Linked DNA regions of Homo sapiens: region 1 is linked to region 2. Evidence: fine-mapped expression QTL. A gene starts in region 2. The other region holds a variant in brackets. All regions are shown on one strand. Distances are between the middles of the regions.

Evidence for each region. PIP is the estimated chance that this variant, and not a neighbour inherited with it, causes the effect.
Region 1: its variant is the best candidate, but not a certain one, in a credible set for the expression of RGS5 in whole blood (TOPMed, PIP 0.88).

The regions. Positions count from the first base shown.
Region 1 is chr1:163,238,291-163,243,679 of GRCh38, reverse strand. It overlaps a transcript of RGS5 not described here and the pseudogene TRNT1P1. Among named protein-coding and RNA genes, the nearest start is that of RGS5, 38 kb to the right of the region's middle. The variant A/G (reference allele first, on the strand shown) is at 2,615.
Region 2 is chr1:163,200,587-163,205,975 of GRCh38, reverse strand. RGS5 (regulator of G protein signaling 5) reads left to right here and starts at 3,060. Exons shown (of 5, transcript NM_003617.4): 1 at 3,060-3,184. The coding sequence starts at 3,141. The region is part of intron 2 of RGS5-AS1 (RGS5 antisense RNA 1); the gene reads right to left. RefSeq lists an enhancer at 2,331-2,996.

The sequences.
Region 1 (5,389 bases), 38 kb before region 2:
ACCTGTCATCTAGGTTTTTTTTTTTTTTTTTTTTTTGAGACGGAGTCTTGCTCTGTCGCCCAGGCTGGGGTGCAGTGGCGCCATCTCTGGCTGCAAGCTCCGCCTCCCGGGTTCACGCCATTCTCCTGCCTCAGCCTCCCGAGTAGCTGGGACTACAGGCGCCCGCCACCAAGCCCGGCTAATTTTTTGTATTTTTAGTAGAGACAGGGTTTCACTGTGTTAGCCAGGATGGTCTCGATCTCCTGATCTCGTGATCCACCCCGCTCGGCCTCCCAGAGTGCTGGGATTACAGATGTGAGCCACCGCGCCCGGCCTGTCATCTAGGTTTTAAGCCCTGCATGCATTAAGTATTTGTTCTAATGCTCTCCCTCCCCTTTACTCCCAACCCCTGACGGGTCCCAGTGTGTGATGTTCCCCTCCCTGTGTCCGTGTGTTCTCACTGTTCATCTCCCACTTATGAGTGAGAACATGCGGTGTTTGGTTTTCTGTTCCTGTGTTAGTTTGCTGAGGATGATGGTTTCCAGCTTCATCCATGTCCCTGCAAAGGACATGAACTCATTCATTTTTATGGCTACATAGTATTCCATAGTGTATATGCACCACATTTTCTTTATCCAGTCTATCATTGATGGGCAGTAAATGCCTCCTTCTATGTATAAAGACACCTATACAAATGTATCTTTGAACTTCTGAGTGTAGAATGTTTGCAAACACATAGTAAAACTATTACCACTCACGGTGAGTTGCAGTTATAGAAACTCCTTTTATTCTCTCTTCCCCACAGTCTAACGAATACTGCTTTGCAGAAGTAACTTTATTTTAAACAGATCTGATCATGTCACTACTGCCCTCAGAAAACGTTAGAGGTTCCCTATAGAAAATGTAATGAAGCCTAAATTCCTCAGCCCTCTGTCAACATTTCCCCTGCTGAACTTTCCGATCCTATATTTCATCACATCTTCCCTCCAATTCTAAGCTCTTCTCATAGTAGGCTACCATCATTCCCACCAATATACACACAATTTCCTGACTGTGCACCTTTTTTATGCTGTCCCTTCTGCCTGACATTCAATACTTGTCCTAAGTCTTAAACATCTTTTAAGCCCCAGATGAAAACACTTAAGAACAGAATCTGCCTTATTTTCTCATTGAATATTACATTTGATTATGGTGTGTTTCAAAGTTTGCCTTAGAGCATAATACTCATTTGTGTATGCTTCTATCTTATCTCACAACTCTCTTCCACCTGTGCTCCTTTCAAGCATGAGAACACCTGGTTTATTTGGTATTTACAGTTTCTTGCATAATGCTTAACACATGCTCAGAAAATGTTGGTTAACTTGAAGCAAATATTCACCAATGTTATTTATTTTTATAACTACTTCATTCCACCAGTGCAAAGAATGTACCTATGCTATGAAATGGCCAAAATGTAAATATTTTTCTGACATATTTAAAAAATATGCCATGTTTGATCCATTATCTCTCTATCCTCAAGGAGCCACTAACTCAGATGTTTACGTCAAAACTTTTATAGATCTCATCTATAAGACATGAATGAAAAATTTTAAAAACAAGTTATTATTTTCAAGAAAGATCTTTCTATAAAATGAAGAGGTTTAATTCAAGGTCTCACTTCCTTTATTCCAGTGCTAGCTGTGAAATGTGAAGAAGTAGCCTGAGGTGCTTGAGATTAATACTCTACGGACAATTAATCTAGTTCAATCTTGAGCATAGAATACTTAATACAAGTACTGTACTTATGTAGCCATTCATTTTCCTAACAAAGACTGATTATATCCCCAGGAAGTCAACCACAGCTCTCCATCACTTACAGCCACTGGCCAACACTTCGTCTCCAGTGAAAATATTGTGTCTTTTTCTATTTTAAATATTTTTATCTTATTTTTATACACGAATATCTGTGTATGTCACTGTTCTCTATCTTAAACTAAACATTTAAGAATGGAATGGCCATACCAAAGTCTGGTCAGCCTGATCATTTCAGTCATTTTAATTTAAAGAATGAATTGGATCAGCAACTTAATGATCTGAATTAAGCTGGTTTGGAAATCAGATAATGTGAGAATAAACGACCGTGGGTTGCATAAGTGTGATCCATACCTATCTGGAAGGAAACCGTAAACCAGAATAACCATAGTCTGAAACATGGGGTGGAAAAACAATTTTATCACAAGAAAATATTTTACTCCAAGTTTCTTCAGGTAGGGGAGGCCCTTCTAGAGAGAGACAAAATGCAACTATACATAACAAGAGTTTAGAGCAATGGAAGAGAATCTCCCAGCTATGTTCAGACCAGAAGATAATATATTTCAAATAAGCCACAGAGGTCTTCATTCATTCATTTAACCAGACCTGCTCTGTGCCAAGCACCATTTTAAGAACTGGGGATACAGTTAAGAACAACAACAACAACAATCTGCCATTATTAAACTTACATTCTAATCCAAGAAGAAAATAAATAATCAAATGAACACATAATACAATATCAGTTATTATAGAAGAAAAGTAAAGTAGGGTAAATACATCTAGCCTTTGGGGATAGGTCAGATAACAGAATTTCAGAGAGAGTGGTCAGGGGTCTCTTACCTGA[A/G]GACAAGTTAGCAGAAACCCAAAGGAAGCAAGGAAGCAAGCCATGAAGAGATCTTGGCAAGAGTGTTTCAGGCAAAGAGAACAAGTACAAAGACTGGGTGAGAGTAGTTGGCGGGTTTGAGGAACAACCAACAAAGTCATGGTGCCTGGGGCTATAGGCGTGTGCCATCACACGCCTTAGATACATTTTGACAAGTATATTCACCCAGGTAACCATGACCTCAAACAAGATACAGAGTATTTCTATTTTGGCCTGGTGCAGTGGCTCACACCTGTAACCTCAGCACTTTGAAAGGCAGAGGCTGGAGGATCACTTGAGTCCAGAAGTTCAAGATCAGCCTGGGCAGCATAGCAAGACTCTGTCTCAACAAAACGTTTAAAAATTAGCCAGGTGCTGTGGCATGCACCTGTGGTCCCAGCTACTTGAGAGACTAAGGTGGGAGGATCACTTGAGCCCTAGAGTTTGAGGCTGCAGTGAGCTGTGATCACAACTCTGCAGCCTGGGTGAGAGAGTGAAACCCTCCATCTCTCTCTTAAAAAATTTTTTTTCCAATTATCCCTAAGAGTTCCTTCATTTCCACTTCCAGTCAATCTCCACCCTGCCTCCTGATGCATATGGTCTAGTTTTTTTTTTTTTCCCCACCATGAATTAGTTCCACCCATTCTAGAACTTCATATGAATGAAACCATAGAGTATACATTCTTTTGGTAAGGCTTTGTTTGTTTACTGTGTTTTTGAGACTTATTTATGTTTTTGCATACACTATTAGTCTATTCTTTTTTTTAACTGCTGATTAGTTAATATTCCAATGTATGACCATTCCGTACTTATTTGTCTATTTTTCTGTTGGAATTCATTTGAATGGATTCTAATTTCTGACTATAATGAATAAAGATATTATTTTATATAACTCACTGTGTTGATATATCTTTTTATTTCTTTTGGTAAATACTTAGAGTGGAATTGCTGAGGCATAGGGCAGGTGTATTTTTTCCTTTTAATGAAAAAAAAAAACCCTGCTAAACAGTTTTCTAAAGTAGTTGTACCTTTTTTCAAGTTCTTTTGAGGCACTCATTTATTTATTTTGGAATTCAGATAAGAATGAACACATCATAGACAGTCATTGTACAAAGTAATCCAGTTATCTCAATTGAAATTAATAAACGTTTTTGCTTCCAGATAGTTAACACTTTTTTCAGATCAATCTTAGTGCCATGTTATGCAAAAACTAAATTTTAAAAAACGTCTACATAGATTAAGATTGTAGAAGCCAATTATGCTTTTCTCAGTTGGAACTATTTCAAAATAACTGTTTCAGCAATATAAATCAGATCAAGAGGAGGTGAATTTCAGTTTACTTCCTGAAATATAATTCACAAAATAAGACCTTTATCTTTAAGAGGTCCTTTAAGCTGGCTTTTATTCTGCTGTGATTTCCAAAATCTCACTAACAGGGAGAAGAAAAAACTAGCCTTATTTAAAATGTTCTGCCTTTTAATGGACACCAGTTTTAGGTCTTCTTTATGCCATTTAGAAGTGAATCTTTTTCCATTTGGTAACCCTTTTTTTTTTTTTTTTAAGAGACGGATTCTTGCTCTGTCACCCAGGCTGGAGTGCAGTGGTGCAATCTTGGCTCACTGCAACCTCCGCCTCCCAGGTTCTAGAAATTCTCCTGCCTCAGCCTCCTGAGCAGCTAGGACTACAGGCACAGGCCACCACGCCTGGCTAATGTTTTTTTTTTTTTTGGATTTTAGTAGGGATAGGGTTTCACTGTGTTGCCCAGGCTGGTCTCGAACTCCTGAGCTCAGGCGATCCACCCACCTTGGGCTCCCAAAGTGCTAGGATTACAGGCATGAGCCACCGTGCCCAGCCGGAAACCACTTTTTTCCCACTGTTCTCCCAGCTGTTGTAATAGAGCCCCAATTTCTTTCCCTGAAGAGATCCCCACTTTCCTGATGCCATGACAGTTACAGGAAATGGGATTCACCGTTGCTGCATTTCCTTTCAGAGACAGTGCTCTCCTTGGTACCGCAGTAGCTCACATACATGAGTAGTTGCATCATGTTCCCTGGAACCTATAATGAAGTCTTGATAGAGTTTCAATGGTTCTGAACTATCTGTTGCTTTAATTAAATCTTTCCTATTTTTAAACATAAATAATCCAAGACTTTTCTTTTTTTGTGCAGTCTTCGACCTCAAATCCACTTTTGCAACATCATCCTATCACTTGAATAATGAGGCAAAAAGAGTCATTGACTTTGGTGAAAAACCTTCAACATTTTTACTGACCTTATTAAACTCTTCTAAACTTTAATTAGCAGATAAACCTATGTAAGGAGCCACATCAAGATCATGGATAAGGGGAATCAAATGATTTACATGGTTACCAACAAAAATTTTTTCAGTTCCACCCAAATCCTCATTCCTGATATTCCACCCAAGCGTTTTGCATTTTCTGCAGTTTTTACAAAGCTTTAGGACCATGGTCACCAGGTTGCTCTACAATTGTCCCATAAAAGTGGAGGAAGGTCTAGCTAAGTTGGGAAGAATATTAAGAGGAAAGTTCAAACTGTGCTAAGTGGAAGCTCATGAGTTTCTTATTTTAATTTAGCAATCAACACTGAGAGTTTCTGCAACTCCTGGAGCATTTTGGAAATTTGAACTTGAATATTGCAGCAATTTTCATTTTTAGTTAAAAGAAAACATTTGGATTTTGTTCTAATTTATCCTGTTCAGATTGTGGCAATTAATATGATTTTGACACTGAATTCTTTA
Region 2 (5,389 bases):
AGGGTGAGACTCTTACTGTGAGTAGCGAGATTAGTGAATAGACGTCTGTTCACCATGGATCACATAGTCCAAGAGGTCCCCAAATTAGAAGTGATAAAATGCATCTCAATAAATATATTGCTAATAATAGTTAAAATAAAGACACTTACACATGATTTAAGGAAATGAATTAGAGATGAATCAGAGCAGTTGTGTGGGCAGGAGATCCTTTTCATCTGATGAAAATGTTCAATGTCTCTCACTGCTTCCACTTGCACAGCTAACTCCTTCCTTCTGTAGAACTGTAATATCTAGTGCTTTGGAGCCCAAACCACTGTGGCATCCTCCAGGGCAGATGGATATCTCTTTGAAGCACCCCCCTGAATTCCCTCCCCTGTTTCATTAGGTACCACTCCTACTCACCTCTTTTCACATTCCATGAAGAAGTGGTTGAAATCACTCAGAATATGATGGCTTGTTTCTCTTTTTCTTTGCTATTACAGATTTATACCTTTTTCATATATTTACTGTCATTTCTGAGGGATTCTCAGGAGGGAAAGGAGATTTTAAAATAGTTCAATTTATTTTTTCAGACTTCAAATTTATTTTACGTAGTAGGCTCTCTCCTTTTTTTTTTTTTTTTTTTTTTTTACTGTGGTTAAAAAACACGTAACACAAACTATTCTCTTCACAGATTTTTAAGTGTACGGTACAGTATAGCTAACTATGGGCACAATGTTGTATAGCAGATCCCTAGAAATTTTTCATTTTGCATAACTGAAACTTTATACCTATTGAAACTTTATTGAATAGGAACTCCTCCATTTCTCCCATTTCTAACCTCTAGCAATCACTATTTTACTTTCTGCCTCTAGAGCACACTCTTTTACATACTTTCTGGCTATCCCATCCTTACAAAGTTTTAAAAACAAATAAGTGTTGGATTTAACATTATTTCTATTGAATTTTACATTTTGGGTTCTAGTCCATCTTTTAGTAAATTGAGATAATTTTTATTCTTGAATAGTCCATCACATGAACTCCTTTGGGACAGTCAGAAACATGCTTTGATTTTTAGCCCTCGCCAAGACATCACCCTCCATTGCTCTACGTTAAACTTGGGGTTTTTCTTTTCATATTATTATCTCCTCAAGGCCCCTTGGTATCAAATAATGATTTAGACTCTTGTCCCAAGGAGTCTCTTCTACTTGTTTTATATTCCCTTTATTAGATTTAATAGTCAACAACAGTGTCCACATGTCTCAAAAATGATAATTAATTGATTTGCTGATGTTTACTCAGTCAATAGATGGCGGAACTTGGACAGTTTGTTTAACTCATTCAGTATTTACAGATGTCTATGTGCCTGACATTGTGCTTAGTGTTTGGAAGGCTGAGGCAGGAGGATTGCTTGAAGCAAAGAGTTCAAGACCAGCCTGGACACCAAAACTAGACCCTGTGTATTCAAAAAATTTAAAAACTAGCTAGGCATGGTAGCAAGAGTCTTTAGTCCCAGTTACTTAGGAGGCTAAGGTGGGAGGATCGCTTGTGCCCAGGAGTTTGATGATGCAGTGAGCTATAATCATGCCACTTCACTCCAGTCTCTGGTCTGGGTAACAGAGCTAGACTCTGTCTCAAAAACGTGTGTGTCTGTGTGTGTGTGTGTGTGTGTGTGTGTGTGTGTGTGGTTTAGAGCCACAGCTTTCAAACTTTTTTGATTATGATCCATAGTAAGAAATATAGTTTACCTGATGACCCTGTGCACACTTACATATTGATAATTAAAGTCAAAATTTCAGAAAACAATACTTTTTACATCCGATGCACTTGGATATTTGTCTATTCTATTTATTACATTAAAAACATCAGGTCATAATGCACTGCATTGACTTTACAAGCCAGTAACAGGGGTTGATCAACCATTGCCTAAAAAGGGTATATAAAGAGGGAGTCATTTAAAACAACTAATTTCAGATAACAGAGAAAATTATGAGAGTACTGTTCAATTCCAAATTCAGAGCTTTTCTTACGGATTATTCAGTGCCACTTTTTTTAAAGCTTGGACTCATGCCTACCTTTTAGGCATTTATTTACAGATTAACTTATCAGCACCTTGGGCCCCGACAAGATAAGACACAATTCAGGTAAATTTTGGTAAATATTCCTTGAGTGATAGGAAGCAGGAAAAGTTTGAAGGAGAAGGAAAGACAAGCCTAGGCAAGGATGGCTATGGTGGGGAGGTACAAAGAATTACAAAGCATTAGTCATCCAAGCAAAGTATAATCAGAAGACCACTGACAGAATTAACAGAGTTCAGAGATAATATCATTATACTCAATCCCTACTAAGATTTTGGTGTTTGGTCTCCTAGATCACTTTTTTAGTACCTTCACAGACATATGGATTCATAAAGAATATATAGTAATTATTCATATTTGTTTTGATTTATATAAACAGTAATCTTGTCTCTCAGCTCCAGAAAACCTTGCCTGGTGCTTCCTGAAGGCTCACAACATCCCAGCCCGGCCTCCATCACTTACTTATAATGTGTTTTGGGGTCTTGAGGGCAGGGAGCTTTCTCTTTCTTCTCTGAATTCCTAGCATCCAGCTGAGTGCCTGGCACTTGGTAAGTATTCACATACACATTCCTTGAATTCCCTAGATTTCAGTTTCCTTCACTGTGAAACAAAGTGGGCTAAACGATCTCCAGGAGCCCTTACAGTCCTAAGAATCTATGACTTTGACCGATCTGAAGTGGTCCAAGACACTTTGCTTCACAGGAAGCTCACATCTTCCTTGTGATTGGCCTGAGATTAGGAGTTCAAACAACCAATGACCTGTGCACAGTTTAGGGCCTAACCCTGCCCTGGCCGGTTAGCAAGAGAGTGTTGTGATAAGAGCAGATGAAAGCCTTATGCCACAGTAGTGCCTGTAGCAGAGAAAGGATTCCCTCCTCCACCTCAGGGCCCACTGCTGCTGCTCTCCAGCCTGCAGTTTCCTCTAAGGCTCTGGATTGGCTGGAAGAGCAACAGAGGGCTGGGAAAGAGCTTCTATATATACCTCAGGAGGAAAGGCATCCCAGACAGTTTTGAAGTTTTCAAAGACTGGCTCTGCTGTTAAGAAGTTGTACTTAAAGCGGAGGAGCTAAGCCACCTGCCAAAATGTGCAAAGGACTTGCAGCTTTGCCCCACTCATGCCTGGAAAGGTGAGAACCAAGTTATTTTTGTTTAAGAGATGCAGATATGGAGAATCTTTACTCAAGGGAGGCTGCCCAGTGGTAACAGAGGTATTGTAGTTTATGGCTAAGCTGAGGTGAAACAGGTGCTTGACTGTAGATTGGGTATTATCTCTTCTCTGTAAACAATATAGAGATTTTGAAAGATCCAAGCTAGGAGATTAATACAATATAGAGTATTTCATACATCATTTAATATCCAGAACATCATTTCCTTCAAGGAGATGCCTATTCTATAAGTCCTTATTTAGAGTAAAAACTGTATGGTTAAGGATATAGATTCCAACATTAAACTGTCTAGATTAGAACCCTGGCTCTACTACTTACTATTTGTGTAAGTACTATTTGGGCAATTTATTTAACCTCTATGTAGCTCAGTTTCCTTATCTGTAAAATGGAGATACCGAGAGTTCTCTACCTCACAGGCTGGTTATGAGGACTGAATGAATTAATATATATGAAGCACTCAGAACCATGTCTGGCACCTAGTAGACTGTATAAATGTTAATTTTTATTAATGTACAGGGACTGGGAGAGGGAGGCAAGTTTGCAGTGAGGAAGAGGAAATTTCCCATTGTTCTTTGTTCTCTGACCTCATTAGATAGAAGTAACTGGATGGCTAGACAGAGAAAAAGCCCTTGGGACACAGGGGTTATTTATTAGCTAGCATTCTTTTTCAGACAAATGCATCAAAATCTTTGAGGCTCCCTGGTTGTCCGTAGGCTGGACAATATTCTGGAGAGAATCCTAGGTATCTAGGCTAAGCAAATAGAAGAACAAATATCTTACTTGTTAGAAAACTTAACCCAACCATCCTCTCTGATGGAGAGAAGTAGGGATGTTTCTCCTTTTATTGAGAATGGATTTGATTAAATTGGGTTTGATCCCTCGTTATTTAAAGTAAATAAAGAAGATCCTTGCACAGATGTTCAGCCCTAAAGGCATTAGCAGTGTTTGTCTCGGAAGATTTTATTGTTTAAAGGGCCATCTATGACTTCTGTCTCTTACAAGTTCAGGTCTTCTTTTTGATGCCTTCCACTCTAGAAATAACCTAAAAATAATTTTTAAGGAGATAACATTGTAGCATATAATTTTTTCTCCCAACAATACTATCTAGTAACTGAATATGAAACCTCCAGGGAGACTTACTCTCTGAATTATGGCTTCCAAACTTTTTTTTATTATGATCCATAGTAAGAAATATAGTTTACCTAATGACCTTGTGCATACTTACATATTGATAATTAAATAAAAGCATAGAATATTATTATTGTTTTTTAAATTTACATAAAAGAAACTTGTAGCTGTTAAGTTGTAGAAGTTAGATTGTAAATAAGGGATCAATATTGTCTATTGTACCAACCCTGGGGAAGAGGATAGGTTTTAAAGGTGGATACTATTTATTGCTATTAGCCTGTTCTTTCCTCTTACCTAGTATATAGAAAGCCTAAGAAATAGGGAAAGTTTTCTGTGCCTTTCCAGAAACGCACAGAAAACTTGAATATGGGACAATGTATAATTATTTCCTTTGCCATTTTTGCAACTATGAGAATTGCAACTTGACTTTAATGGATGCTTTTAGCATACTTATTGTTTGAAATTGTGTACTCTTATGTAGTGAATAAATCTTATTAATTGGCAAACAATTGACTTTAGAATGATTGTAACATCAGTTTGCCAAGCATTTTGTGATTCTATGACACATTGCTTGGCATTTGGTGAGAAATCAATAAAATTTCTGTTGAAAATTTGCCATGTTAATTATTTTGCTCTATGTTTTCTCATAAGTATGCATAATATTCACTGAGATATATGGATGGAACATTTCTTTCAATGATTCCTATTACTGTATTATATCTGATTCACTAGCAACATTAATATTGGATCACTTTATTTTTTGATGCACAGTAAATTCTTATGCACCAGGATATAACTAATGTTCATGTAGAATATTGAAGAGTGGTGAGTGGTAAAGGAGTGAGCTTATTTTCCCCATAGGTTGACTGAGTCTTTTATTTATTGGGATGTGGTAGAATACGCAATTATTGTGAGCTATTACATATTGTTTCATAATCTGTTCTCATCGTAAATAGGGTCATTGTAATTTCTAATTACCATGCTGCCTGAGAAGAATGTTTTGGAGAAATGGAATTGTGGAGCTGTGAAGCTGTTAGT